7 linked regions of the Homo sapiens genome follow. The protein of the gene in region 2 purifies or fractionates together with the protein of the main gene of each other region. This does not show direct contact. Each region holds a gene or a part of one and is shown on either strand. Other genes may lie near its edges. The genes, in order: ERC1, TSHB, EPDR1, PRMT3, ASB1, SP3 and CNTNAP3.

What was found.
Region 1: the proteins of TSHB (region 2) and ERC1 purify together in Homo sapiens (affinity purification with mass spectrometry; 2 studies listed by BioGRID and IntAct, with this or other methods). This does not show direct contact.
Region 3: the proteins of TSHB (region 2) and EPDR1 purify together in Homo sapiens (affinity purification with mass spectrometry; 2 studies listed by BioGRID and IntAct, with this or other methods). This does not show direct contact.
Region 4: the proteins of TSHB (region 2) and PRMT3 purify together in Homo sapiens (affinity purification with mass spectrometry; 2 studies listed by BioGRID and IntAct, with this or other methods). This does not show direct contact.
Region 5: the proteins of TSHB (region 2) and ASB1 purify together in Homo sapiens (affinity purification with mass spectrometry; 2 studies listed by BioGRID and IntAct, with this or other methods). This does not show direct contact.
Region 6: the proteins of TSHB (region 2) and SP3 purify together in Homo sapiens (affinity purification with mass spectrometry; 2 studies listed by BioGRID and IntAct, with this or other methods). This does not show direct contact.
Region 7: the proteins of TSHB (region 2) and CNTNAP3 purify together in Homo sapiens (affinity purification with mass spectrometry; 2 studies listed by BioGRID and IntAct, with this or other methods). This does not show direct contact.

Annotation. Positions count from the first base shown.
Region 1 is NC_000012.12:989,774-994,022, reverse strand, and holds the start of ERC1 (ELKS/Rab6-interacting/CAST family member 1), read right to left. Parts: upstream 2,801-4,249; 5' UTR 2,701-2,800; exon of another isoform or gene 2,536-2,700; intron 2,474-2,535; exon of another isoform or gene 2,404-2,473; intron 1-2,403. UniProt on the Homo sapiens protein: Regulatory subunit of the IKK complex. Probably recruits IkappaBalpha/NFKBIA to the complex. May be involved in the organization of the cytomatrix at the nerve terminals active zone (CAZ) which regulates neurotransmitter release.
Region 2 is NC_000001.11:115,028,633-115,032,625, reverse strand, and holds the start of TSHB (thyrotropin subunit beta isoform 1 precursor), read right to left. Parts: upstream 2,801-3,993; 5' UTR 2,766-2,800; intron 1-2,765. UniProt on the Homo sapiens protein: Indispensable for the control of thyroid structure and metabolism.
Region 3 is NC_000007.14:37,923,640-37,927,139, reverse strand, and holds part of EPDR1 (mammalian ependymin-related protein 1 isoform 1 precursor), read right to left. Parts: intron 1-3,500. UniProt on the Homo sapiens protein: Binds anionic lipids and gangliosides at acidic pH.
Region 4 is NC_000011.10:20,386,478-20,390,515, reverse strand, and holds the start of PRMT3 (protein arginine N-methyltransferase 3), read right to left. Parts: upstream 2,801-4,038; 5' UTR 2,770-2,800; coding exon 2,742-2,769; intron 2,498-2,741; coding exon 2,362-2,497; intron 773-2,361; coding exon 690-772; intron 1-689. UniProt on the Homo sapiens protein: Protein-arginine N-methyltransferase that catalyzes both the monomethylation and asymmetric dimethylation of the guanidino nitrogens of arginine residues in target proteins, and therefore falls into the group of type I methyltransferases.
Region 5 is NC_000002.12:238,425,686-238,429,726, reverse strand, and holds the start of ASB1 (ankyrin repeat and SOCS box protein 1), read right to left. Parts: upstream 2,801-4,041; 5' UTR 2,657-2,800; coding exon 2,608-2,656; intron 1-2,607. UniProt on the Homo sapiens protein: Probable substrate-recognition component of a SCF-like ECS (Elongin-Cullin-SOCS-box protein) E3 ligase complex which mediates the ubiquitination and subsequent proteasomal degradation of target proteins.
Region 6 is NC_000002.12:173,909,874-173,913,373, forward strand, and holds part of SP3 (transcription factor Sp3), read right to left. Parts: intron 3,394-3,500; coding exon 3,197-3,393; intron 385-3,196; coding exon 68-384; 3' UTR 1-67. UniProt on the Homo sapiens protein: Transcriptional factor that can act as an activator or repressor depending on isoform and/or post-translational modifications. Binds to GT and GC boxes promoter elements. Competes with SP1 for the GC-box promoters.
Region 7 is NC_000009.12:39,096,168-39,099,667, reverse strand, and holds part of CNTNAP3 (contactin-associated protein-like 3 isoform 1 precursor), read left to right. Parts: intron 1-3,500.

The sequences.
Region 1 (4,249 bases), on a different chromosome or scaffold from region 2:
ATCTCGGCTCACTGCAAGCTCCACCTCCCAGGTTCAAGCAATTCTCCTGCCTCAGCTTCCTGAGTAGCTGGGGTTACAGGTGTGCACCACCACACCCAGCCAATTTTTATTTTTATTTTTTGAGATGGAATCTCGCTCTGTAGCCCAGACTGGAGTGCAGTGGCATGATCTCGGCTCACTGCAGCCTCTGCCTCCCAGGCTCAAGCAATTCTTCTGCCTCAGCCTCCTGAGTAGCTGGGATTACAGGCATGTGCCACCACGCCCAGCTAATTCTTATATTTTTAGTAGAGACAGGGTTTCACCATGTTGGCCAGGCTAGTCTCGAACTCCTGACCTCATGATCCGCCTGCCTCGGCCTCCCAAAGTGCTGGGATTACAGGCATGAGCCACGGCGCCCGGCCAAGAACCTTCACTTTTAAGTTTGCAGTATTAATGTTGAATTAACAGACTGGCATACTTATCTATGACACAGGTAATGAAGGAAAAAAAACACCTCAGTAGACTCAACAAGGATATCACAAGTAATGACTAGCAAGCAACATTTTTTGAAAAATAAAATGTAGGCATAATTTCAGGCACAAGAAATGCTAAACGAAATAGCTTACTTTTACCTTAAGACTTTCCCCAAATTATGTGATTTCATTCCTACAAGGACAAGAATCACAGCTTACTACCAGCCATGCAAATGTCATTTTAGGAGTACACACAAGTTTTACCCAGTATCTTAGTTCACATTTGTCCCAATTAATTAAGTCTATGTATAATTTAAAAGCGAAAACTAGATATGTCAATTTTGTTTTCCTTCTAACTAATCCAAAGTCAAAACTGTTCACTTTACCAAATGAATTAACTGAATACAGTTAATTAAATCTTTTATTTATAATTAAAAATTGGAACACACACTTTCTCACTTAATACCTATTATGTCCTGTTTCCCATACCTCTCTATAAAGTAGAAGTATTTGCTGGAAGACAATAATCTGCTCATTAAGTAGGCACTTAGAAAAAGCAACGATCTGCAACTACTGAAATTCTTATCTGTATATTTCTCTTTTGGGTTACAAGAAAGCACTTCTCTGGCTATTTTCCCAAATAAACTAGGCAAGCCTTGGGAAAGTCACTGCTTAAATCCCACTTTCTGACAGCTTCTCTTCCTCCATAAATGAATTATTGAGAGCCATGTCTACTTCCATCCATTACATAATACATGTCCATCATGGGACCTGTTTTCTGAACAAGAAATAGCTTAAATGACACTAACTGATAAGTAGGGCCAGAGAATACTGTAATCTAACAGGGAGCAAGAATCCAGAAAAGAAGATTCTGATTTACAGTGCTAAGTTGTGAAAGAGTGATGTGAAGAACATTGAACACTGCTTACTCTAATATTTCCATACAAAGTGACACACCTGCCCCCAAAATGTTTTTAAAGCACTTGACTCCAAGAACATTTCTCAGAAATTGAGGAGCCTACCAAAAAAAAAGAGTTCCATTTCATTTTAAAGTGTTTTAATAAAGACTGCAAGAAACATAACTGCAAATGAGAAATAAAATTTCAACAATTTAGCACTGAACACAAAATGTCTAAAAGTCAAGGTGTACTGAGCAAGCAACACGCTATAAAAGACGGTTGTACTTTAAAACATTTAAGCATTTTTCATATAATTAGCTCCAACAGAACTATTCCAATTGTTCACTTTATCCACCCAAAGCAGTCAACCACAACCACCTGCAACTATTATTCAGCAATGTGCCTTCCAAAGCAACCACCTGAGTTTGGGGCCTTCTCTCAAGGGGCCAGGATAAAGCCTGTAAAAGGGTGGTATAAAGAGATCTTTTAGGCATTGGGGGGAAAAAAAACTGGAAGACACCACCTTGAAGGAGCTAAGCGTAATGCGACCCAAATGGTGGCTGCCGGAACGAAGTTGTCTAAACCGAAGATCTCCCTCTTCTTCGGTGTAAAACTTTCAGATACATCCACGCTCACAATTTACCTGAGCCAAAGTAAGGGGATTCTCTTCCCTCTCCGACCCCCCACCCACCCCGCCAGAAGAAAAAGAATCGAACCCTAAAGTAGAAACGTGAGATCTAGTGCAATAAAATAGGTTCTGCAACTGCCTCAAAGGCAACATGCACAGCTCATCGTCCTTTTGAAATACACTTCATCTTTTATCTCACCATTTCATCGAAAAGAAAAGAATCATCTTCAGCATTTTACATCACTCACCTAACCCAAAGATCCACCCTGACCGCACCCCAACCTCATGGCTCCCCAATTTCTCCGTCTCCCCACTACCTCGTCCGCGGCTTCACTAGTCCTAAGCCTCCCCCCCTCCGCTCCCCAAGTGCCCAGAGCCCCAGTCCCCACTCCCCCACCTCCCGCCCCAGGATCCCCACATCTACCGCCTCGGCTCCCGCCCGATCCCGGAGCCCGGCTGGGTGGAGCCCGCGGGTGGGCGCCGGTGGTCTGGGTGGGGCCCGCCCCTCCCCACCCCCCGGGCTGCCGAGGAGGGGGAGGGGGTCGCGAAGCCTCACCTACAGCTCCGCCCCTCCCCGGGGGCGCGTTGCCCTGCCCAGCCCAGCCCGGGCCGTGAGCAAGAAGCTGGGTAGGAAAGGCGAAAGCCTCAGCACTAGCGACAGGGGGGAAGCTCTGGGTCCCGCGCGACTTCCGCGCTGTCGCCGCCGCCGCGGCCGTCTCACCGTCCTCAGGGCTGCCGCTACTGCTGCTGCTGCCGCCCAGGCACCGCCGCCGCCGCCACTACCGCCGCCGCCGCCGCCACAGCACGGCCCAGGCGCCCGCGACGTCACCGCGCCCCGCCCCCTGCGCGAGACACCTAGCCCCGCCCCCAGCCCCGCCGCGGGGCGCAGCGCGCCTCCCCGGGCTCCCGGCTCGGCTGCCTCCCTTTCCCTCAGCCTCCCGGGAGCGTGACGCGGCGGCCCGGGGGCCTCCGGGCGCCTTCCGGGGCACGCGGGTGAGGAACTGGGAAGCGGGGGAAATCGGCGCCACGGCGGTCGATTAGCACCGAAACAGAGTGATGGGCGCGGAGCGTCCCTGCACACACACACACACTCACACACACACACACACGACCCCTGCGGCCACGGGAGGGGAGAGCCGGGGTCGGCTCCGCGAGCGCAGGGTGGCGCTTGTCTCCTCCTGCTTGCCGTAGGAAGTGGACGCTGGAAGCCCGAGGAGCCGCTTCGTGTCTTCCCAAACCTAAGCGGCGCCCCACCCCCTACTTCTCGTGGCCCGTTACGCCCGGGGCAGCCAAGCGCCGCGGGAGCAGCGCCGGGATCGACCCTGGCTGCTGGGGGGACGCTTTGTCCCAAGAAAGCTGGTTTTTTGCCCCTTAGCTTCGTGGAACGCGGCCGCGAAATTAGTGGTCTTCTGACCTGAGACTCGCGGGGCTGCGCACACGGGCATCGCCGAGGACCCCAGCAATGGACGTCGTGTCTGTGGTGATCCCGCCAGGACGCGGGGAGCGTGGGCGGAAATTAGTGTCCACGTTCCGACCCTGCGCTGTGCCAAACGCTGCTTCGGGAGCTGTTTATTTAGCCTCCGACAGCTAAGCGAATCGGCGGGCGGCTGGGGCCTGGTGCAACCCGATTTTCTCGTGCAGACTCGCAGCCGGCTTTGGTTTTGTTTTTTGTTTTTTGTTTTTTTTTTGGAGCCATGCAGAGGGTAGCTACAGCCATTAATTTAAGGATGTAGATAAGCTATCTCTAAACCAAGAAAGTAAGAATGGTGTGAATTATATTTATTCCCAGCCTTCCAGTGTTTATTAAAATAATTTTCGGTGTCCTTGAGAGGAGTTAAAAGCCATCATTTTACTCCTGCTTACCTCCGCCACCGTAATTAACCACTTTATACTGCCTCATAATCCCATTAACAAATTGCAGTCGCTCCTCAGCCTTCACATTCATTCACTCACCAGTTTCTACTGTTTCATCCTGCCCGGACTCTTAACTGTTCCCTCCCAGGATCGACATGCACTTGGATCATTGCAGTTTCTGGGCCTGCTGTCATCTCCCCCTTCAGTACTTCCCACATATGACTACCAACTGTTAGACGATGTGCTGCTGCCAGACCAGCCTTTCATTTCTTGGACATCCGGCTATTTACCCAGGAAAAGTCATCCTTTGACTATTTTTCATGACCTTTCTCATCTGACTCGTGATCTGCCCATCTTGTTACTCCCTAGCAGTGTGGTAAGGTAAGAGAAAATTCAACTAGGAGTCAATAGATATT
Region 2 (3,993 bases):
TTGAAGATTAAGAAGAATTTTTTTAATCTTACAAATATTGTACAGCTAGCTAGATGTGTTTGGATTTTTTTCCTTCTCAAGTATCATTGTCAGTAAAGAAAATATATACCTTAATGGAGTAGTATTGTGGTCTATGAACATAAACTTGTTTGCTTGTTCTATTAAATAAAATATAATTTACTAAATATTTTGTTCAATAATCAGAAGTACCAAGATTTCCCCAAATCTGTCAGTTATATCCCAACAGCATCTTTAAGCTATATACACTAAAACCTCTGTAAACTGAAACCTCATAGGTTCGGCCTTGGTTAACCAGGATTTTTTTTTCAATCAACTTATAAGAAACCATGAAAACCACATTACACAGGTTACCAGGGATTTATTTTAAATGTCAAATTCCAGAGATCAGTGGTCATTTCAATCAACCTTCTATTCCTAGAATGAGAATTGTAGATAAATTAGATAAACATATATTGAGCATCTGAACCAGGCACTGACAAACACAAACGGAAAAGCTACGGTCCTTTACCTAAAGGGCTGACTGTCCAGTGGAGGAGCTAATATGAACACAAATAATAAAAACGCAGATTGTTCTAGTGCTCTGAAAGAGTCCAAATTAAGACTTTAAGACCTACAATTATCAAAGATTTATGTTTACTATACTTCTTATTACACAAGAAAGTAAACTAACCCATTTTAGGAAGACTTAACTTTTAAAGGTTAAAATAACAGGGGTTTTTCTCACAAATTCTTTTAAATGAAATGTTGCATATTCAAACATTCCACGGAAGGTTTGTTTGGTATTTGAGTTAAGGAGCAAAAACATACAAATTCCTTACTCATGGAATCTGGCTTTCTCAAGCGCTTCTCAAATGTGAGCTCCCTCTATGGTACAGAGTTGCTTCCAGTATTTTAGAGATACAGAACTTGATGATCCTCTGTAGGATCTTAAAATTACTAACTGGTAAATTATGTAAAATGCTTACCCATCATGGCCATTATAGTTCTTGCTTGTTTAGACAGCCAGCTACTGAGTTTTTTCTATAGGAAACAACTAACTTCACATATTTTAACTTTTAGCTCTATAATTCTGTATAAAATCAATGTGGTGACCTGGTGATGAAAATATTGGTCTAAAAATTAAGAAACAGAATTCTTCCATAAATCTATGAGAACTTGACTAAAATATATAATCTGTTTGAGTGTTATTTCCCCATCTGCAAAATAGAAAGTGACAAGTACACCTGACCCTTTTTAAAATGTAGGATGAAAATTTGTTTTGGTTTTCCTATTGTCATACTAACTATGGATACTCTATATTTTTTTGAAGTTTCTCCTATAAATGTAGAACTCTAAACTAACAAAAGTAGAAAATGGAAGTGCTGAATTACCAGCCACAGTATCTGTACAACTTTGTGGGCATAAAGAAAGCAAGAACTTTTCTTTTCCTTTACTTCTTTATTGCGAATAGTAAAACTTCACCCACAGAATCTTTCTGGGCCTCAACTTTCTCACCTATAAAAGCAGGGCTTAGAGCCAGAAGATGATCATGAAAATCTTCGCAGCACAAATAGTCTGTAATTCTATATGATAAATTAGTGTCAGATCTGATTGATTGATTAAGAGTTAGTGATCTAAATTCTACTTAAGGATTTAATTGTAATTGTGTGCAACTGAGCAATTTAATATCTTTGTGCCTTCATTTTTCCATATGTCCCTTCCTAAAATCATAAAAAGAATAAAACAATACATGTGAAACACTTGGCTCTCTATATAAGAAAGATCACATAGCTGTATAACACTGTACAAATCCGCGTTAGTTAATCCCTTCCTCTGTGATATGCCACAATTTCTTCCTCATTGTCATCTGGGTTCTCATCTTTGCCACTTAATTGCTTATTCTGAAATCACCATGAATAATTTGTTGGGTACCTAAACATAGAAGGCATGGTTTCAGGCAGGGCCTAAATAATGAGATGCCTTCTTCAGATGCATGGACATATATGTCCCTACTTTGAACGTATTTTCTTATTCCAAGATATGTTCTTTCCTTTGCCTCTTTCCTCTCTTTTTTTCTCTTATTTTTGCTCCCAATGCTTCATTCTTAATAAACACTTTCCTCTCTGCTCTGCTAATTTCCTTCATTAATTTTTACTCTCCAAATCCCTTACTATGAAAAGAACTAATTGCCCATCCTATGAATAATCCTGGAACTTCACTAAAGCAGTATATTTTTCTAGAAAGCAAAATGTACTATACAGCAGCTGTGTGTGTGTTGAACACTATCAAAGGAGGTTTAGCTATTAAATAACTAAAAAGAACTTATAATACAGAGTACATTACCCCAGCAGGTACTCAAAAATGAATTTGCTCTAACATTCCCGGAAGTACATTTTCATAAAAGATGGCCATTAGTACAGTAATTGAGAGGATTTAATACACACATCATTAAATGGACAACAATATTTAAATCAAAATGAAAACAGAAGAAAGCCATGAATATCAAATATCCTTCATTAGGGAACTAATCAGTTGTTTCTCTTTCTTTAAGTCAATGAATTTTTTCCTTATCCTTATGTAGGTAGTTCTCTCACCTCCATCTACTACTAAACAATTTGGAGCAGTAATTTAAGATATTACAGCCTGTTGAAGCAAATTATCTTTCAGCATTTGCCACTTTCTAAAAAATGATAAAATGGTGAAAGTGAAAAAAAATAGCTTAAGAACATATCATTTCACAGAGCCTTCTCACTATAGACACCTACCTTACTTTGCATTGGTGAGCAGATGCTGTGGTGACCCAAACTAAAAGCTCTTGGTTCATTTTATACCCTTCAGGATAATCCCTCTGATCTTCTTGTTTATACAATTGCATTTGATTTACTGCTTTCTTATCTGAAAAGCATCTATTGAAAATTCATACTGAATTCCAAATAAAATGTATTTAGACAAACAAGCTCACAATATCTTTACCTGGAAACTGACATTATTAAAGCATGCATTTTCCTCTCTTCTGTTTCAAAATAAAATTACCTTTTAAATATATTCTTTATTAATATTTATTTATTAATATTAATAAAAGATAGATACAGAATGGGAAAAACCAAATTCAAAAAACACTCTAACATCATCTAAATAAGTCTTGGGAATAAAAATTTATTTGGGGCTTGAGGGCTTCAAGTTTTACCTAAATGTTCATGTAAAGATATATAAAATTATTCCTCATCTAAAAATTTTGTTTAGAACAAAATGTGTAGTTCAAAATATTTTTGGGGGATTTTAAGATATTAAGTAAAATTTACACATGTGAAAGAATGACTCTGAGGAACATGGCCACATCTGACAGGATGTCAAGCTGACCTGAGATAAAATTTTGGCCCTGCCATTTACTTGCCATATGACATTGGCATGCTTGACCTCTTCAGTTTCTATTAAAAGGTAATATCACTTCTCTAATGATTTGTGGTGTGAGCATTTTTTCATATGCTTATTGGCCATGTATATATCTTCTTTTGAAAAGTGTCTGTTTATGTCTTTTGCCCACTTTTTAACGGGGTTCTTCAGTTTTTGCTTATAAATTGTTTAAGCTCCTTATAGATTCTGGATATTAGACCTTTGTCAGATGCATAGTTTGCAAATATTTTCTCCCATTCTGTAGGTTGTGTGTTTATTATGTTGATAGTTTCTTTTCCTGTTACATCAGGTAACAAAAGTACACGATCCTAGAGAGATGGGAAACAAACAGGGAGAAACTGCCTGGAGAAAGTTTCTGGGCCATAATGCAGAAGCCCTTTAGTTAAAGGTCCCATTTGTCAACTTTTGTTCTTGTTGAAACTCCATTTGTCGTCTTCGTCATGAAATCTCTGCCCGGTCCTACATCTGGAATGATATTTCCTAGGTTATCCTCGAGGGTTTTTACAGTTTTAGGTTTTACATGTAAGTCTTTAATCCACGTTGAGTTGATTTTTCTATATGGTGTAGGGAAGGGATCCA
Region 3 (3,500 bases), on a different chromosome or scaffold from region 2:
CACATATTATTCTCCAGGAAAAGTAACCAGGGCTTCTTGAAAAATGGTTTATCCTAGGACTGGGGCAGGAAAAGTATAGATGATCTTGAAATATCTTGCTGTGCCGGAAAGCAAGGAAGTGCCCAAACACATCAAAAGAACATAGAAACCAATTTGAAGAGGCTTCCACTGGCCAAATCTAGGACATTATGAACAGCAAAGTAAACAACGAGAGCAAATAGAACAAAATTAGAAGGCTTGAGTCCACACTGATACAAATAAAGTATAATTCAGAAGATTAATGAAGAATGGGATATGTACATGGTTTTAAAATATTTCCCTACCAAATCTTACTAATTAAAAAGAAAAAATGTATCATTTCACAGTGAAGAAGGCTGGCAGACAACAGTCAATCAGGTGATCAAAGTGAACATCAGGATGCAATTGGAACAGAGTATTATCCCTGATATTCCTGCCAAAGGTAAGTAACTTGAATCTAATTATGAGGAAACATCAGACAAACCCAAATCAAGGAACATTCTACAAAATAACTGGCCTGCAATCTTTAAAAGCACTAAAGTGCAAGGAAGACTTAGGAACTATTCCAGACAGAAAGAGACCACAGAGACACCACACTTAAGTGTAATGCTTGCATTTAAATCTTTTTTTTTTTTTTTTTTTTGCTATGAAGAACATACAAAGAACAACTGGCAAAACATGAATGACACCTGAATTTCAGATGGTCAAAATGAACTGGTGTTAATCTCCTGACTTTTATGGTTGTATTGTGGTTATGCAGGAGAATGTCCTTGCTGGGAGGAAATACACTGAAGCATTTGGGGATCGTGGGTATATCAGTTTGGCAACTTACTATCAAACAGTTCAGGCGAGGGGGAAGCTCTTTGTATTATAATTGCAACTTTTCTGTAGGTGTGAGATTGTTTCAAAATAAAACAAAATTATGTATTTGAAAAATAATCCTCATCCTCCTTTCCAAACACATAAGATTACTGAAGTTACCTTAGGTGATAGCAGCCCTGGGAATTAATCATCCACAGCTGATACTTGGACCAACACCCCTATAAGCAACACTATTCCATTCTTAGTAGGAAGGGAGGCTCAGTTGAGTGCAGAGCCTTCTGAGTTTGGGCCCGAGGCATTTCAAGGTAGCCTCTTCTCTTTTTCTACTCATAAGCACAGGCTTAGATGAAAAAGAGAAGGAAGAAAAAGAACTTTGAATTAATTTGTCTACACAATGGGACAGATTGAGAAAAAATTTAAAATCTGTGTCAAGTTCATTGCATTAGAAACAGTGAATCAGCCTGATATAATAAAAGTACAATTGGTGCCTTCAGGATATCATTTAATACTATCTGTACCTAGCATTTAACAAATGAAAGCCTAAAAGTGATTTAGTATCAACATTGTAGGCATCATTCAAATTAAATTAAAAGATGAAAAACACAGAGGTTCTGCAATGTTGAGGACCTTATTGGGGTGAAGGCAGGATTAGAAGCCATGGTTGTCACTCCATCATGGTCTAACATGAATGCCCCTGCTCTCTCCACTACAGGAGGCTGATTCTCTGTTTAAAAAAGAGGTTAATGCTATTCTCTTCTCCAAGAAATAATATGCTCTGGGAGAATCAAGAGAAGCAGACATGAATTAATCAGAATTTGAATAAGAATCCACCTGCTGCCCCATTTGTGACATATTTTTCATGTTTTACAAATACAAATCCTTAATAGAACATGTACGACTGGTGATGAAATAATATTCCAAGATACCAGACTGTGCATATTGTTTTACTGCCTCTCTGCTCACTCTGCATTAAGAGCTTCATTGATTCCAACACCCAAGCCACCATTTTGTAAGGGGGAGCCTATAGTTACTGGTGGCCTGAGAGGGTTCATTGTGTATCAACGCTGCTTCCCCTATAAAGTTCAACATGCTGCCTGAAATATGAAAATCATCTTCTTGATTTCCTTCAGTCTTTCAAATAAATACTTGTGAATTTAATCAAGGAGTCAGAAAAGACAGTTGGAATTAGAAAATAAAATGGTATCAATTACTAATATTTCCCATTTGCTGCTCAGGCTTGTCTTATCTGAAGCTTGTAAAGTTGTTTAATCTTTTCCATCATCTCAGGGAAAACAGAGCCTGGAAAATCCTAGTCATTCCACAGTAACTATCAATGGGATTTTCCATAACTATCTGGATGCAAAATGAAAATCTTAAGAAGTTGATCCAATTCTAAAACTTACTTCTCAACTTACTCATAAATATGAAGAGACAACTCATCCATATTTTCTTCAAATAACATCTGGTTGCTTGGCCAGACTGTTAATACCTGAAAAAGTTTCTGAGTTTGTTCCAACAAATCTACACTTAAAGAGCTTAAAAATGTGTTTATGCATTAAACATTCTTTTCCACATCTGACTTAGGGCCAGCGATGTGACTGTCAGAAAGAACCTTGCCAAGAACTCGGAAAGAAAGGGAAAACAATGTCTTTTAGAAGTTTAACTGTGAAACCAGCACCTATTGGATTAGGGCAGAGGAATGAGAAATCACCGCAAAGGGACAAAAATGCTTCTAAGCCAGCAAGAGTTGGCTGTGACTCCACTAAAGGTATAAAACACACATCTAAAGGCTATATTAGTCAGTCATGGAGTCATGGAAGAAGGGTTGCTCAGACAGACTTGAGCAGTACTCACCAAGGGTCCATTCTGAGTGGAAGGGGTCAGGAACAGCACAGTTGGGGTAGCACAGAACCACCACCAAGTCATCTCTATTGTGAAAATCAATGCATCACTTTGCCTTTGCCTGATTACCATTAAACCTTACCCCAGGCTGGCCTGTCTTATTCATGATGGAAAACTCCACATTGAGCATACAGCCTAACCTAGGGCAGGCAATCATTAGATGTTTGCTCAATGAATTTGCTCCAACTCTTTGCTCACAACTGCCTGATGATAATTTGGCTCCCCACATAGTTCTGACTACAGGGAGAGAATGACCTAGTCTGGTGGATTTGAGAATGCTGGTCCTCATGCCAGCAATAAGACTCATTGAAGTAGACAGGTTTAGCATTTGAGTTTCCTTACTCGAAGGTTGTTCCCAAAGGAAGGGTCTGTGTGTGCTGCTGTATCAAGTTTCTGAGCCCAAAGGGCTGGCAGCAAGTCTCTGGGCTATGGTAACTTTACCAGGATAATGATGATAGTGGTAGCGATGGGACCAACCTTGGCCATGAACAGAGCATCTTGTGCGTACTATCAGACATTGTACTGTATGTTTTATACACTTGAGCTCATTTAATTCCCATAATAATCCAATAAATTAGGCATTATAAGTATTCACATTTTGTAAATGAGGATACTGAGACTCAGAAAGCTTTATTAACTTACCCAAAGACCCATATTCAGAGTCTGGATTCAGATCCAGATTTGTCTGACTCTAAAGTCTAATTTTTTTAATTGTAAAAAAAAAAATACTACCTTTGGAGAGATGAACCCTTATCCTT
Region 4 (4,038 bases), on a different chromosome or scaffold from region 2:
CTCGTAGGCTGTGAAGTTCATGTCATGCTTTGAGCTGATTGTCTTTTTTCAAATGACCTGCGTCCTTTTTCAAGTCCTACATCTACACTTGCTCTCCCTAAATCTAATATGTAATCACATAAAATGTAAAAATGTAATCACATGCCAAGTCTGTTTTTGTTTTTAGTTGAAAAGCTAATATAAGCTTAAATACAGTGAATCTTGTCTAGAAGAGTGACTTATTCATCTTTTCTCAAGGACCGCTTGTCAAAAAAACTCCATTTCCACAAGATGTTGCTGTGTGATTCGCCATATTAAACTCGTACAGAAAAGGGTCTGAAAAACTATAAAATCTGAACTTATATTTCACAGATTTTTTTTTTTTTTGAGAAGAGTCTCACTCTGTTGCCCAGGCTGGAGTGCAGTGATACCATCTCAGCTCACTGCCACCTCTGCCTCCCAGGTTTAAGCAATTCACCTGCCTCAGTCTTCTGAGCAGCTGCTATTACAGGTGTGCGTCACCACACCCAGATAACTTTTGTATTTTAGTACAGGTGGGGTTTCAGCATGTTGGCCAGGCTGGTCTTGAACTCCCGACCTAAAGTGATCCACCCACCTCAGCCTCCCAAAGTGCTGGGATTACAGGTGTGAGCTGCCATGCCTGCCCAAATTTCACAAATTAAATTGCCTTTATTCTAAAAACTACTCACCATGTTTATGAACCATGCTGTCAATATTAAACTGATGCTCAGACTTACAGTGTGAAAATGTTTCTTCAGCAGATGTGAATAACCTGAAAAATCAAGCAATAGCTTCATGGAATAGTCCCCTAAGAAGTCTAAATACTGATTTCATGTTACATATACACTTTTTTTTTTTTTTTAACTCTGCTGGTTTCTAGTTTTACTTCCAATTAAGAAAAAACAAACACACTTGTATCTGAAAGGAAGGGAATCCAGCACTTTTAAAGGGAATTAGTACTTCTGAGTCCCATTTTATACCTAAAACCAATTATCCTTTAAATGTCAAAGTGAATTTATTTGTCAAATAATATCACTGATTTTATCAAAAGGCTTTTAAGAGAGTTCCCTTTGATAGAGTCTGTTTCTCTCAAGTCATACAATTTCTCTACTTGAGATTCTTTTCTCCTCTAAGTGTCAACTCTGCTTTCAGAGGCTTTGAACTGGCACAGCTCAAACTGCTTTTAGAAATAAAGCATAAAATGTAATTTTACAGCTGGCATACTCCCCAAGTGCCTTATTTCAAAAGTGATCTTGTAGTATTCCCAACGTACTTGCATCACAGACACTGTGAGGATCAATCCTCTTTATTATGTGACATGCAAATCTGAAGGCTACTTAAAGACAGGAATACACAGCAGAGAAGCTGTATACCTTATCTATATTCCTAACACATGTGGAGCATTAGTTTTCCACAAATGTTTACCGAGATAGGTTATGTCGACTATTTATGGAGGCTATCACAGCCACGGTACCACTGGTGCTCAATAAATATTTTATGACAACTAGAATATATACAGGCATTCTATCTACCCAATGGGGCTACAGATGAGAACACTAACGCACCACCACTCAGCACCATGCCCAGATACAGGGAACACTGGAAAATGTATTAAAGTAACACCGGCCAATGCCAACCGGGCCTCTTTCATGCCTACTTGCCTAGGACAGGAGCCAAAGCTTCCCAAGACTAACAGGCAGAATTTTAAGTGGCAAGAATGTGAGTTTGGAAATAAGCACACCACAGCTTTGTGACCTTGAGCAAATTATTGATACTACAGTCTTTTTCCTTAAGTGAAAAGTCCTACTTAAGTAAGGTGAACTTCCTTCTTAGACTATGGAAACCGCTCAAATAAAAAAGAAATGTTTCACCTGAGAAGCTCTGTACTGGTCAAAGAATTAGCATGGTAAAGCCGGAAGGCTCCGTAGGGATTATCTAGTTCAGGGTGGCTGCCAAATATGTTACTCGTTAGTAGTAACTCGTTAGTAACTTCACTGTTACTTCCGATCTTGTCCTCATAAAAACAGAATATTCTTAGACCCCATCCCTGACTTGGAAGGATTCAGGTGCAGAGTTCAGTATCATTTTGTTTTCAGCGTCTCAAGTGACAAGATTTGGGAACCACAGATTCAATGCACTACCAGTCAAAAGCTTGCAGTACAACCGGCCTTCCAGTTCACGGTTCCCCCTCTCTACTACCGAGGGTCCTCCTTCTCCACAAGCCCTCACCCCAGACCAGTGGTTCCAGAATTCAAAGACAGGCCACTCTGGCTTGCCTCCCGCCCGAAGGCGTTCCTGGGCACACAGACCCCACGCGCCCGGGCACCCTAGGGCAGAGGCCAGGCGCTGAGGCGGACGAACCTGTTACAGAACAGGCAGGGGGTCTGCTGCTTGCCGTGGGGGAGATCTGCATCGTCCTCATCCTCCCAGGCGGCCTCGTCCCCGCTGTCCGACAGTTCTGGCAGGTCCTCCTCATTCTCCACAGCGCCCCGGCCGCCTAACACACACACACAACAATCAGATCGGCCTCGGACACCGGTGCGGCCCGGGGGCTCGAGGAGCAGGTGACGATGGGCTCTCCTCCGCCCCGTTCGCCCGCGGCCCTCACTCAGCACCTCCTTCATGATCCCTGCGAGCCCCCCACCCTGCCCGGGCCCGTGTCCCGGAGGGTCTTCCACCGGCCCCACAGCGGCGCGGCCTGGGGCTGGACGAGCCGGGTGCTGAGGGGCCAGGGTACCCACCGGTAGCGCCTGACGCTAACGAGCACATGGCTGTGGTGCCCCGAGAGCCCGGCGTGTCTGGGGGCGGGGACCGGGTTGGGCAACGAGCGCGCGCAGCGGCCGCCGACTCCAGGAACGAGCGCGAGCACAAGCGCGAACCCGCGGCGGGACCCGGGCTCCGGAAACTTCGCAGACCGCCGGGAACGCCGAAGCGCGCGCGCTGGCTCGCAATCGCTTCCGGCCTCGAGGCGCCGTGCGGGTCACGTGAGGTGGGGGCGGGGCGAGAGCGGGGGCTCCGCCTCCTCCTGCCGCAGGGTTGGCGCAGTGCGCGCTGAAGAGGCGCGCTGATGACGGTTAATGTTGCAGCCCGGAAGATGACTTTTGTCTCCTCCTTGGGTTGCGGCAGGCGTTAGTGGGAGGTCGCGGCCCGCTGCTGTGAGCCCCAAGGCAGAGAGACGTCGCTGCGGTTTTGGGGTTGGCATCCTGTCCTCTGTGCGCCCCTTTTTCCTGGGATGAGCGGTTAGCGGAGGGGCGATCGGCCCATGACGCCCTCTGGTGGCGGAGGAGGCCAAACGCTGGAGGCTCGGCTGGTTTCTGGGCTCCCAGGTCCTGGAGGGGGTGCAGCTGGCGAGAGGGAACGAACTGCATGGGCCAGGGTGGGTCTACTGCAGGGACAGATAGGTGTCAAACCCCCCAAGACGGATTTTAATCTTTGGTTAAGTGAGAACGTGAACTCTAGAGGCAGCCTGCTGGGTTTGAATCCTACCCACGTCACTTTGTAACTGTGATCTTGGGCAAGTTACTCGACCTCTCTCTGCCTCAGTTTCATCAAATACAAAACAAGGATAATAACTGCACTTGGGCAGGGCACGGTGGCTCACGTCTATAGTACCAGCACTTTGGGAGGCTGAGGCGGGCGGATCACCTGAGGTCAGGAGTTGGAGACCAGCCTGGCCAACATGGTGAAACCCTGTCCCTACTAAAAATACAAAAATTAACCAGGTGTGGTGGCACGCGCCTGCAATCCCAGCTACTTGGGAGGCTGAGGCAGGAGAATTGCTTGAGCCCGGGAGGCGGAGCTTGTGGTGAGCCGAGATTGTGCCACCGTACTCCAGCCTGGGCAACAGAGCAAGACTCCATCTTAAAAAAAAAAAAACAAAAAACAAAAAACCTGGACTAACTTCAGAACTACAGTAAGGATAAAACGAGTTAATACATGTAAAGTGCTCAGACATAACTATTTAAGCCAGGGAGTGATGCTCTCAGATGTGTTGAGAAAGTAACAATCTGGCTGCTGTGTGGGGAAGAACACAAATGT
Region 5 (4,041 bases), on a different chromosome or scaffold from region 2:
TCTCCTGACCTCGTGATCTGCCTGCCTCGGCCTCCCAAAGTGCTGGGATTACAGCCATGAACCACTGGCGCCTGGCCTATTACACTCTTAATAGATCATAGTATCATGTAAACATAACTTATATATGCACTGGGAAACCAAAAATTTCATGTGACTTGGTTTACTGCAGTATTCACTTTATTACAGTGTTCTGGAACTGAACACACACTATCCCCAAGGTATGCCTGAATGTGATAAACCGGCATCACAATCAGCGAGAATGGAAAAGAGTATTCAACAAACAGCATTTGTACAATCAGATACTTATTAGGAAATAATTGAGTTATTCACCTCACATCATAACCCAAAATAAACTCCTGAAGATTTAAGAGTTTTGTAAAAATAGTTACACAGATTCGTGTGTAAGTAAAGAGCAAAAACTCAGACCACTTGGATTCAAGTCCCTGCTCTGCCATGCTGTCCTAGTGTGAGACCAGACAGGCAGGTATAAAGCACCCCCTCCATAAGGGGGCTCTTTCCAGATGCTGACATTGTTTTTTATATTAAAATTAATCTCTTTTCAGTACTACTGTACATGAGACTCAACCACAGGTGAAACGGGGGTGATGAGTAAGTGTCCCGGCTCTGCAGGGTTTGACAGTCCACTGAGTTGCTCATGCTGATCCCACAACCAGACTCGCCGCAGATCAACAAGCCGGCATGAACAGCTCTTTAAGCCACCACCCCAGTCTTCCTTCAGTAACTATCCTCCCCTGTAATTACTCCACAGTTGCGGTTACTACAGAGTGAAAAAGTTCAAAGTCGGAGTGGGAAAGATTCAGGTGTAGGGCAATAACCAACAGGTAAATGGCGGCCACAGGACTTTTGCTGAGCCCTCTTCTGGGCCCCCTCTGCTGGCCTCTGTGCTATCCATTCCTGGCCCTGCTCAAAGTAGACTCAGAATCTTTCCCCAGCTCCAGATTCAAAAGCAACTTCAAGTTTGTGTTTCGCTGATCAACTACTCCAATGACAACACAACTGCCCCAGGATAGCACTTAAGCTTCAACTGAAAATCTGTTGCCCCTCTACCCGAGGCCGAAACACACTGAATAACAAAACAGCAGTGCATGAGGATATAAAAAGGAGCCCTCAGCTGAGTGTGGTGGCTGCCGCCTGTAATCCCAGCACTTTGGGAGGCAGAGGCGGGCAGATCACCTGAGGTCTAGAGTTCGCTATCAGCCTGGCCAATATGCCAATATGGTGAAGCCCCGTCTCTACTAAAATACAAAAATTAGCCGGGCATGATGCCAGCACCTGTAATCCCAGCTACTAGGGAGGCTGAGGCCAGAGCATCGCTTGAACCCCCGAGGCGGAGGCTGCAGTGGGCCGAGATCACGCCACTGCACTCCACCCTGGGCAACAAGAGCGAAACTCCGTCTCAAAAAAAAAGGAGACCTGTGCAGCCGACAAAGCCAGTGTTTATTCCCCAGGAACTCTCTTTATACTGGGAAGTAGCTGTTGGTCCTCTTTTTCCCACGGAACACGCATCATTCCGTCTCTCACTCTCACATGAGATGACATCCTAGACCCTAAGGTCCTGGCTGTCTCTGAAGTCAAAGTCAACGCCAACCAAAGCCCAGGATGGTAGATGCTTTGTCTGGCTTTTTCTGGTCACTGCAGTATCCTCTGCTGGGTCTAGCCAACAGCAGGTCTTCAATACAAGTCTGTTAAATGATTGGAAGGAGGTGCAGAGGGAGGGATGGATGGAAAAGCCTATCTGCACCAGTCTCCAAGTCAATCTTTTAAGATGTTTAAGAAATGTATTGGTTTATTACTAAGTAGGAGAGGAACCCCTCCAAAGACAAATATAGGCATGTAAAGAAAGCCCAGAACACACGAAACTATTGGCGCGAATGGCAAGCTCAGAAATCCAGCAAGAAGGAACTCCCACCACACCACCGGGAAACGGGAACCTGTCCTGACCGCTTCCTTCACATCTGCATGGTAGGGACACTGCAAGGTGGAGACCCTAAGTAGGACAGTTATTTTGGAAGGTGGGTGTGAGCCTTTCTATCTGCCTCCCTTGCTGGTGGGCCAAAGGCCCCTGGACATGTTGTGTCACTGACGAGCTCGCTGGAGACGGCGTCCCCGTTGTCCCTGGTCTGTGCCTGTGGTGGGTGGGAAGGCTGCCCCCCGCTGTACCACCGGACACGCCGTGGGCGGCAGAATGGTGAAAAAGTGCCTGCCCTCCCTAGGGCTACCCTCTGGCTGGCTTTCCTGATCCGTGCGCTCAGAGCTGGAAGGTGGCCCACGTCCTACTTTTGCGGTTGGGTCATATCAAATCTGTATCGGCTAACGGGAAGGAAGTTACGAGCAAGTTCCACCGGAAAGAAAATCTAGCGCGGGGACTGCACTCGAGGCCGAGGAGAGGGCAGCGCGTCCGTGGTGGGGTCGCCCAGCACTGCGAGCCGCGCTGAACCCCACCCCCGGCCTGCAGGGTGCGGCTCCCTGGCTGCCCCGTGGACCCGGCCAGCCCGGGACGAGGACGCAGGACCTCGGCAGGGACGCCGGAGCCAGCCCTTCGCCATCCCCACACGCCCCGCGGCCCAGTGGCCGCGCGCACGTTACCTGCGGAGCCCGGCCCTGCCCGCCCGTCTGGGCTGCCGCCCTCCGCCATGGATGCTTCCGCCTCCGCGGCCGCCCCTGACCCGCGCACGCCCCTCGGGCAGGAAGCAGAACGACCCGCGACCACTTCCGGCGCCGAGGGCAATGGGGGGCGCGTCGGGGTCGCGGCTTCCGGCGGGCGCGCGCCGGCCTCACTGGTTTCCGGGGCCGCGCAGGGGCCACGCCTCCGCTTCCGGCCTCGCTGTCTAGCAGGGCGCTGGCTGGTCCCTTCGTCCGGCGGGAACTTCGCGGCTAACCGACTCTCTGGATGCCGGCCGCGCTGTGGTTTCCTCACATAAGAAGCCAAGGAGTCGGAAAGCCCGTTGCCTGAGGCAGCAGTCTGGGAATTTCGGTCCGGCGGGCCGTCCCCACCCACACGGACGGGGCGTGGCTTCTGCCAGATGTGGGCGGGGCCCCGAGGGCCGTGGCGGGCGGGACCCGGGCCTCGGCCGGGCTGGCTTGGTCCCCGCAGGTGCCCCCCGCTAGCCACGAGCAGCCCCGGGAGGGTGGATTCGGAGGCGCGGGGACTGGTGAGGGCCCACTGCAGGGCTGAGCGTCGCAGCGTGCTGTGGTTTTAGATGAATGCTCCTCCAAATCCCTTCCATGAAGCCCTCAATCAGGTCGGTAACTGATGACAGCCAGTGGCTGACGCGAAGTTCATTGAATAAATGAATGCATTCGTGAACAACCGAGTAACATTTCTTGCACACTCCCAACTTCAAATATCGCAGCGTCGTCCCACCATGAGTATTGGTGTTGGTCCTAAAGCACGGATTCCCTTGGCTCCTCCCATTCTCCCCTGCTGAGTTAGACAGCGGGGCCTCATGCAGGAGGAGGATTTGTACACAGCACAGCAGGAGGCTGATGAGGGAGTCCGGAGACCCCAGCAGTCGTGGGCGTGAGCTGCTGGCTCATCCGTGTGTACAACATTCCAGACTGGAGTAAGGGAAGCCGCAGGCGCAGCCCCGCGAGTGCCCCTGCTGAGGCTGGCCCTGGGTGGCCCAGATGCACCAGGGGGCCCACTGGGGGCAGACCTGGCAGGCCCTGTGGGGGTTGGAGGCGGGAGTGGGGGTACTTCCTACAGTGGTGTTTGGTCTTGATGACAGCAGAGAGCACCACTGGCATGAGGGACAGGTGACTCCGATGATGACGCTGCCAGGCCAGGAGCCAGGGGTGTGCCCAGCCCCTGGCTCCACCACAGCTGCACATCCCGAACTCGGAGCTTCAGCAACTCCGAAGCCTGAAGCCGCCTCACGTGTTGTTGGATGGATGAATGGATAAACGAAATGCCGTCCATCCATACAATGGAATCGTACTCAGCCTTAGAAAGGAAATGCTGTCCGTCCATACAATGGATTCGTACTCAGCCTTAGAAAGGAAGGGAATCCTGACACACGT
Region 6 (3,500 bases), on a different chromosome or scaffold from region 2:
CTTAGGAACAATATTCTTCTCACTACTGTATAAAAATAACCACAATGAATAAGTATTTGTGTAATATTTACTCCATTGTCTCATTTCCAGAAACTGTGACAAGCTGTAAAGGTATTTCAGTGTTGGTAAGGATATCTTGATTGCTGGTGGCGGAAGTATTAACAGTTCCTATCCCTGAAACAGAACCTTGTTGAATATTTGCAAGGATAAGCGTTGTTCCTCCTGCAGTAATCAAAGTATCATCTCGCGCAGCTTCCACAGATGCCAGCACTGTACTGCTAGAGTGAATACCTTTTTTATTCTGGTGTGTTTTAATATGTTTGGCAAGGTGGTCACTTCTCATAAAGCGTTTTGAACATTCTGGACAAACAAATTTCTTCTCACCTGTTAAGAAAAAAATTAAGTTACTTGGTTTTAAAAATTCAACTTTAATAGCTCAATCATCTCCCCCAAAACAGAAAGTAAGTCAACGCTGACAGGTGAGGATGGGAGCAGGGGTCTATTAAAATTGTATTCATTTTACGAGCTACCCCTGCCAGATTTCTCTTACAGAATATTTCTCCTTAAATCTTTCATCTTTACTTTTTGATGACTAGCAGTCTTCAAACATGTATTATATAATAGATGGATATTCAAATAAGACTTTAATATCTCAACTACGCTAAGAGTTTGTTTGAAATACCTGTGTTAAGATGCCAGCTAAAAAATAAGCATCTATAACACACTTTAAAGTCTAAATAAAAGTATATTCTTTCACGCTATAATTAAAATACTAACATGCCATGTTCATGATACTAAACCTTCAACTCTTAAATATGAATTAAAGCAACAGGGTACTTCTAGATTAAAGAAATGACACCACAAGCTTGAGATCCAAAAAGAATGAGTAATCCTTAGAAAAATGAATCTGGCTAGCTGACTTGACTTCAGCTACAACAATCAAGAACAAGCCTAATATGTTAAGATGTTAAAGCTGTTAAAATCCTGATGCCTAAATTTATTTCCCAGCATGAATAAAGTAAGTTTAAATACAAAAGACAGACTGAACTTCTATTATGTTGAAGACCGACTCTGCAAGATTACCAAAAGAGAAGACAAAAGGCCAACCTAAAAGGAATTCAGAGAGAAATCAATAAAAATCAATCAATAAATCTAGTAAATATTTTCTTAATTCCTTTCTTCAAAAATGTCTTAGCTTGTATCCTTTGTTCTAGCACCTCTACTCTACATAGGTCTTTATCAGACCTCATGCTTGAACTATACTGCAGTCACATCCTAGTCTCTCTCTCTCTCCAGACTATCTTCCTTAAAGACCAAATTTTATTACATCAGAAAACTTCAAGATTATATTAAGTGATATGGAAATGCAAGGGTAACTTGCAGATGACGTAACAGTTTAGATGCTCCACTGCCTAATTTACAAGGACCTTTAAAGTGTGCCTCAATCCTACTTAACAGAAATGTTATGTAAAATCTCATCCTCATTCACCGCTACAAAAAAAGGTCTCTCACTTCTTCTATTAACATACCACCATTTTTCTACTAAAGTATTTCCCAGTTTCTCTTGTAACATTAGTCCTGAGAGGTACTCCATGGCAAACGGCACAAGGTTAGGAAATGCTACACACACATTACATCACTAACTTATAGATGCAAGCTGTCAATCTAGCATTTAATTTAAAGGTCCTAAGAGGTACTGCCTTGAAGGTACTTATACCCTCTTTGGCCCACTATTTCCTACACTTATTTGATCATTGACCTTTTTCTCCCTTTTACATTATTCCTTTTTACAACCTGCTGATAAAATCCTACTGAGGAAAATTCTGTTAACAGGGCCATCATAAGATCTATTATCCCATACTTTACTATCCCAAGCAGTAATTATCTCTGTTTCTGAGCCTTTTCAACAGCAGACTGCAACGCAAAATCTTTTATCTACCTTTTTTTTTTTTTTTTTTTTTTTGAGACAGGATCTCACTTTGTCACCCAGGCTGCAGTACAGTGGCATGACCTTGGCTCACTGCAACCGCCGCCCCATGGGCTCAAGCAATCCTCCCACCTCAGCCTCCTGAGCAGCTGGGACTACAGGTACACACCATCCGCCCGGCTATTCTTTGTCTTTCTAGGAGAGACACGGTTTCACCATGTTGCCCAGGCTGGTCTCAAACTCCTGAGGCTCAAGCAATCTGCCTTCCTTGGCCTCCCAAAGTGCCGGGATTACAGGCATGGGCCAGCACGCCCTGCAGCCTTATCTACTTTCTTAATTGTCTGTTGCAGTTTCATGTAGGTTAATCTCATCTGTCTACCTACCCAATGAGAGACAGGAACTAAAACTATTAGAGCATCTGTATACTACTACAGACTTCATAGGTAATTTTATACAATACTGAAGGCCAAAGTAGGATATGTGAAGCAACGTCAGAGATAGTTTATTCGCTTAACCTAATAGGGAACTTGGATTGGAATCCAGATGACTTCAAAATCCATGTTGTTCTCCATTTTACCATGCTTCTTCCAAGCTCTCTAGGGATTGTAAATACATAGTTTTCAATTCTCCAGTGTTGAGCATAGACTGATGAACACTTTAATCATTTACATGGTAGTAGGAAAAAACTATCTCTAAGTTAACACTGTTAGGTTTCAGTGTAGATCAGTCACAGGTCCATTTCATTTAACAACCACACAACACTATGTAAAAATAATATAATCAGAGAAAGTCTTCACATCAACATTGCCTTGGTTATTCCTCAGTGAAATACCTTTCCCTTACCTCAGAGATACTAAAAACAAAAGAAAAGGTGAAATGCCCAAATATGTCAGAAGAAACAGGAGTATTTTTTGTTACAGTGTTAAGAGGAAAGAAAAAAAATAGGATAGATCAAGAGTAAAAGCTGACAACTAATTAAAAATGTTAACAGAATAAAAATAGTATAAATGTGGTTTAAAGCATTCAATAATGTCAACAAAAGCCACCCAAAGTCTACTTAAATATAACTTTATTTTAGAAGATAAGCCAGACTGACTTGTTCTTTGGAATTTGTGTTATTAAGATGGTGTTACTAAAGGTAAAAATTGGATGTAATTCATTGTATTTTAAATCGATTCAGTTCAGTAAGGAATGCTAATAAAAAAGAAGTCAAGGCAGTTATGTAGCCCTATAATTCATTTTTGTCTGTTAAAAGTAAGTATTAGTAACCTGTATGTGTTCTTCTGTGCCTCTGTAATTCATCACTTCGAGTAAATCTTTTACCACAGTACATCCAGTTACAAACAAAAGGGCGTTCTCCAGAATGCCAACGCAGATGAGCTCTCAGATGTGAGGTCTTCCCATAGACTTTACCACATCCTGGTATATGACAAATGTGTTGCTTCTTTTTCCCAAGATTGGTACCTCTAAAAAACACACATAGAATAATATATACTTATATGAAAATATTCAAATGGACATTACCATTTACATCATATATCCCCATGTTGAATTTTAAATAGAAGACATTATC
Region 7 (3,500 bases), on a different chromosome or scaffold from region 2:
CAATGCTAATCCTCTTGAAATAATTTGGTTTTCAAAACTCTGTCCTTGTACTGTTCTAATTTTAACATCAGTAAACCATCATTGTTATTTTTGTTTTTAATTTTTAGAGACAACGTATTGCTATTCAAGCCTCTCTGTTGCCCAGGCTGGACTTGAACTCCTAGGCTTGAGCAATCGTCTTACCCATTGTCCCTTGTGACAATGACTTGAAGTGATTCAAAAGGCCTTTATAGAAATGTCTTTTCTTATAAAACAAGCATACTAACTAGAAGGGGAAAATAATATTTAAATATTGACAGTCATTAACAGGATCACTCAAACACTGTGCTCTATGATGTTTGACTCTTCTTAGAGGAGTGCAGTGGGGTATCACACAGCTTCTGCTCAGGTACAATCATGTTTTCAAAAGAAAAGGGCTGGGCGTGGTGGCTCATGCCTGTAATCCCAGCACTTTGGGAGGCCAAGGCAGGCGGATCACGAGGTCAGGAATTCAAGACCAGCCTGGCCAACATGGTGAAACCTCATCTTTACTAAAAATACAAAAATTAGCCGGGCATCCCAGCTACTCGGGAGGCTGAGGCAGGAGAATTGCTTGAACCCGGGAGGCAGAGGTTGCAGTGAGTAGAGATCGCACCACTGCACTCACTCCTGGGCGGCAGAGTGAGACTCCGTCTTGGGGAAAAAAAAAAAAAAGAAAAGGAAAAAGGGACTGATTTTAGTATTAAGTACTCTGTACTGACTTATTTAATATATTTATAATACTTTTATGAAACCTCTTACAATATTGAATCATCAGAGCTAAAATGTAGTTGTGTTTTTAAGTGTCTCTGGGCTGTTACACTTACTATTTTTAGCAGCAAAACAGGCTTTAATCACTATAAAATTGTGTGACTTTCAAAAAAATTTTGAGGATTCATTATCTAGAAGTCATTTAAATTTTCAAAAGGTCTTGCATGTGTCTTTTATCATTCCTGAAGATCTCTGTGCTAACAAATCTCATAGCTCTGGTGCAAATACAGAGCCCTTTTTATATCTCAAGCCAACATCAGGAGTAACCACTCCTTCATGAGCACAAGTGCTGATTTCTAAATCATTCCCAATCCACATTTGCTAAGTGCAATTTGAATGTTATTTTATAACCCAAAATTTTCTTAAGGATAGACATTATATAGTAAGTAAATGGAAAATGGTCCTCCAGTGGCTGGGGCATATGTTATAGTTAGATTACCTAATCTAATAAGAATGATCTGGATTTTCAGTAAATTCTTTATATTTTATGGAAATGGAAAGAGTGGAGTAGTATTCCAAGACAATGATCATCACCCAACATTGTCTTTTTATTTACAGATATATTTGGGGGGTGTGTGTATGTGTATGTGTGTACTAAACACATTTTTGGAATTAACTTGATATAAAATTAAAATATCAACCTTTCATAAAGTGTTTTAAGAGAATCTGAAAGCCCTTCAACTTTTCTCTCTCAGAATACTGTAGATACCACTTTGGATTAGCCTTTCTATCCAGACAGTAAATTTGAGAAACATCTTTGGCATAAAAGAACATTTCTAAATTCTGACCTTGAAGGAGGGTTGGTCTTCAAATCACCTTTTCTCTAGTTACTTCAGGAGCTCTGTTTCATGCTTCCTACAAAGCAAATCGATTTTTAAAGAGGAGGTAACATTCAAATAAAAAACCTGGTACTCTGGCATTTCCAGGCTGGCCACATAAGGAGCTCTGTAAACCCTCTCTCATACGAAACAAGCATAACTAGTAAAAATTATTATTTTAAAAAACAACTATTGAAAGTCTTTAGAAGATGTCCTAAGGAAATACATCAAATGAAGAAACATTTATTAATCAGTAATAATAGTGAGAGTTTGAGGCATTTAAGCCAAGACCCTCTCCCAGCACCTCCCCATCCCTAGCTCAGTATGACGGAAGCTCCACTCTATATGGATATAGCCAAGAAGCCAGAGGTTTCCTCTCTACCCAGGTCCTACTCCAGAGATACTGCATTACCCCAAGATTGGGTGCCAGCATTTCTTGTCATCCCCAGTTTTGTAGGACAGAAGCTCTGTCCACGCAGAAACAGCTGAGAAGTCTGGGGTTTCCTTCCTACACCAACTCCTCATTCCAGGACATAAGGTCTTCAGGTGTGGCAGCTGGAAAATCCTGTGTCCCAATTGCCCTCACTCCAGCTTACTTGTAAGGAACAGTTTCTCCACCAGGAGAGGCAAGGCAAGAAGTTACCTTTCCCACCCTGTGCCCTACTTGTAAGCAGAGGTTTTACTACAAAGGAGCAGGCCACTCTCACTCCCCACAGCTTCAGAGCAGTGAGGCACATTCAACCAAGAGGTAGAGGGAGGCCATGAAAATACACAGCTTGGTAGCCCTCCCCAAGTGAACTGATTTCTATTTGGAACAGAGGATGGATAAGTTTAAGCATAGTGGTATGAAGATATTGGCAGTAAGCAATTAAGAGAATTTTGATAACTCCAAGAGAGTAATGAGTTAAGCCAGGGAAGTTTAACAGAGAAAAGAAAAAAGAGTCAGCAAACTTGAAGCAAGATCAATAGAGATTATGTATCCTGAAGAATACAGAGAAATAATAATGAAAAAAATAGATCATCAGAGAAATATCAGACATAACTAAGCACACCAATATATACGTAATTGAAAATACCAGGAGAGAGAGAAAGGATCAGAAAAAAATATTTGAAAAATAATGGTTGAAAACACCCCCAAATTAATAAAAATCATTAATCTAAGATACAGAAACTCAGTGAAATACAGATGACACAAAGAAGTTTATATCCAGACACATCTTATTAAAAACTTTGAAAGCCAAAGTCAAGAAGGAAATTTTAAAAGCAGTAAGAGAAAAATCATATATACAAGGAAACGCCAGGATCAACAGCTACCTTCTAATCTGAAAGAATGGAGGCCACAGGACAGTGAGATAACATATTCAAAGAGATGAAAGAAAACTATTGTCATGAAGAAACTTACACCCAGCAAAACCGTCTTTCATGTTCAGTAGCACAGGATGACTATAGTTAACAATAATTTATTGTATATTTCAAAATAACTAGAAGAGTGGAACTGGAATGTTCCTAACAAAAAGAAATGATAAATGTTTAAGGTGATGGATATCTCAGTTACCCTGATTTGATCATTACACATTGTTTGGTTGTATCAAAATATTACCTCTACCCCATAAATAACGTACAACTATTAGGTATTCATAAAAACTAAAAATTAAAAAAGATAGTAAATATATCCCTACTTACAAAAAACAGAGAATTCACTGCTATTAGCCTGCATTAGAGGAAATAACAAAGAACGTTCCTTCAGGTTGAAGGGATATAACCCAGACAATAATCTGAATCTACACACAAAAAACAAATAGCACTAATAAAGGTAAGTGTGCAGGTAATTATAAAAGAAAGTATAATGTCATATTTCTTACCCTTTTCAGTGCTTAACTATTTTAAAAAGCA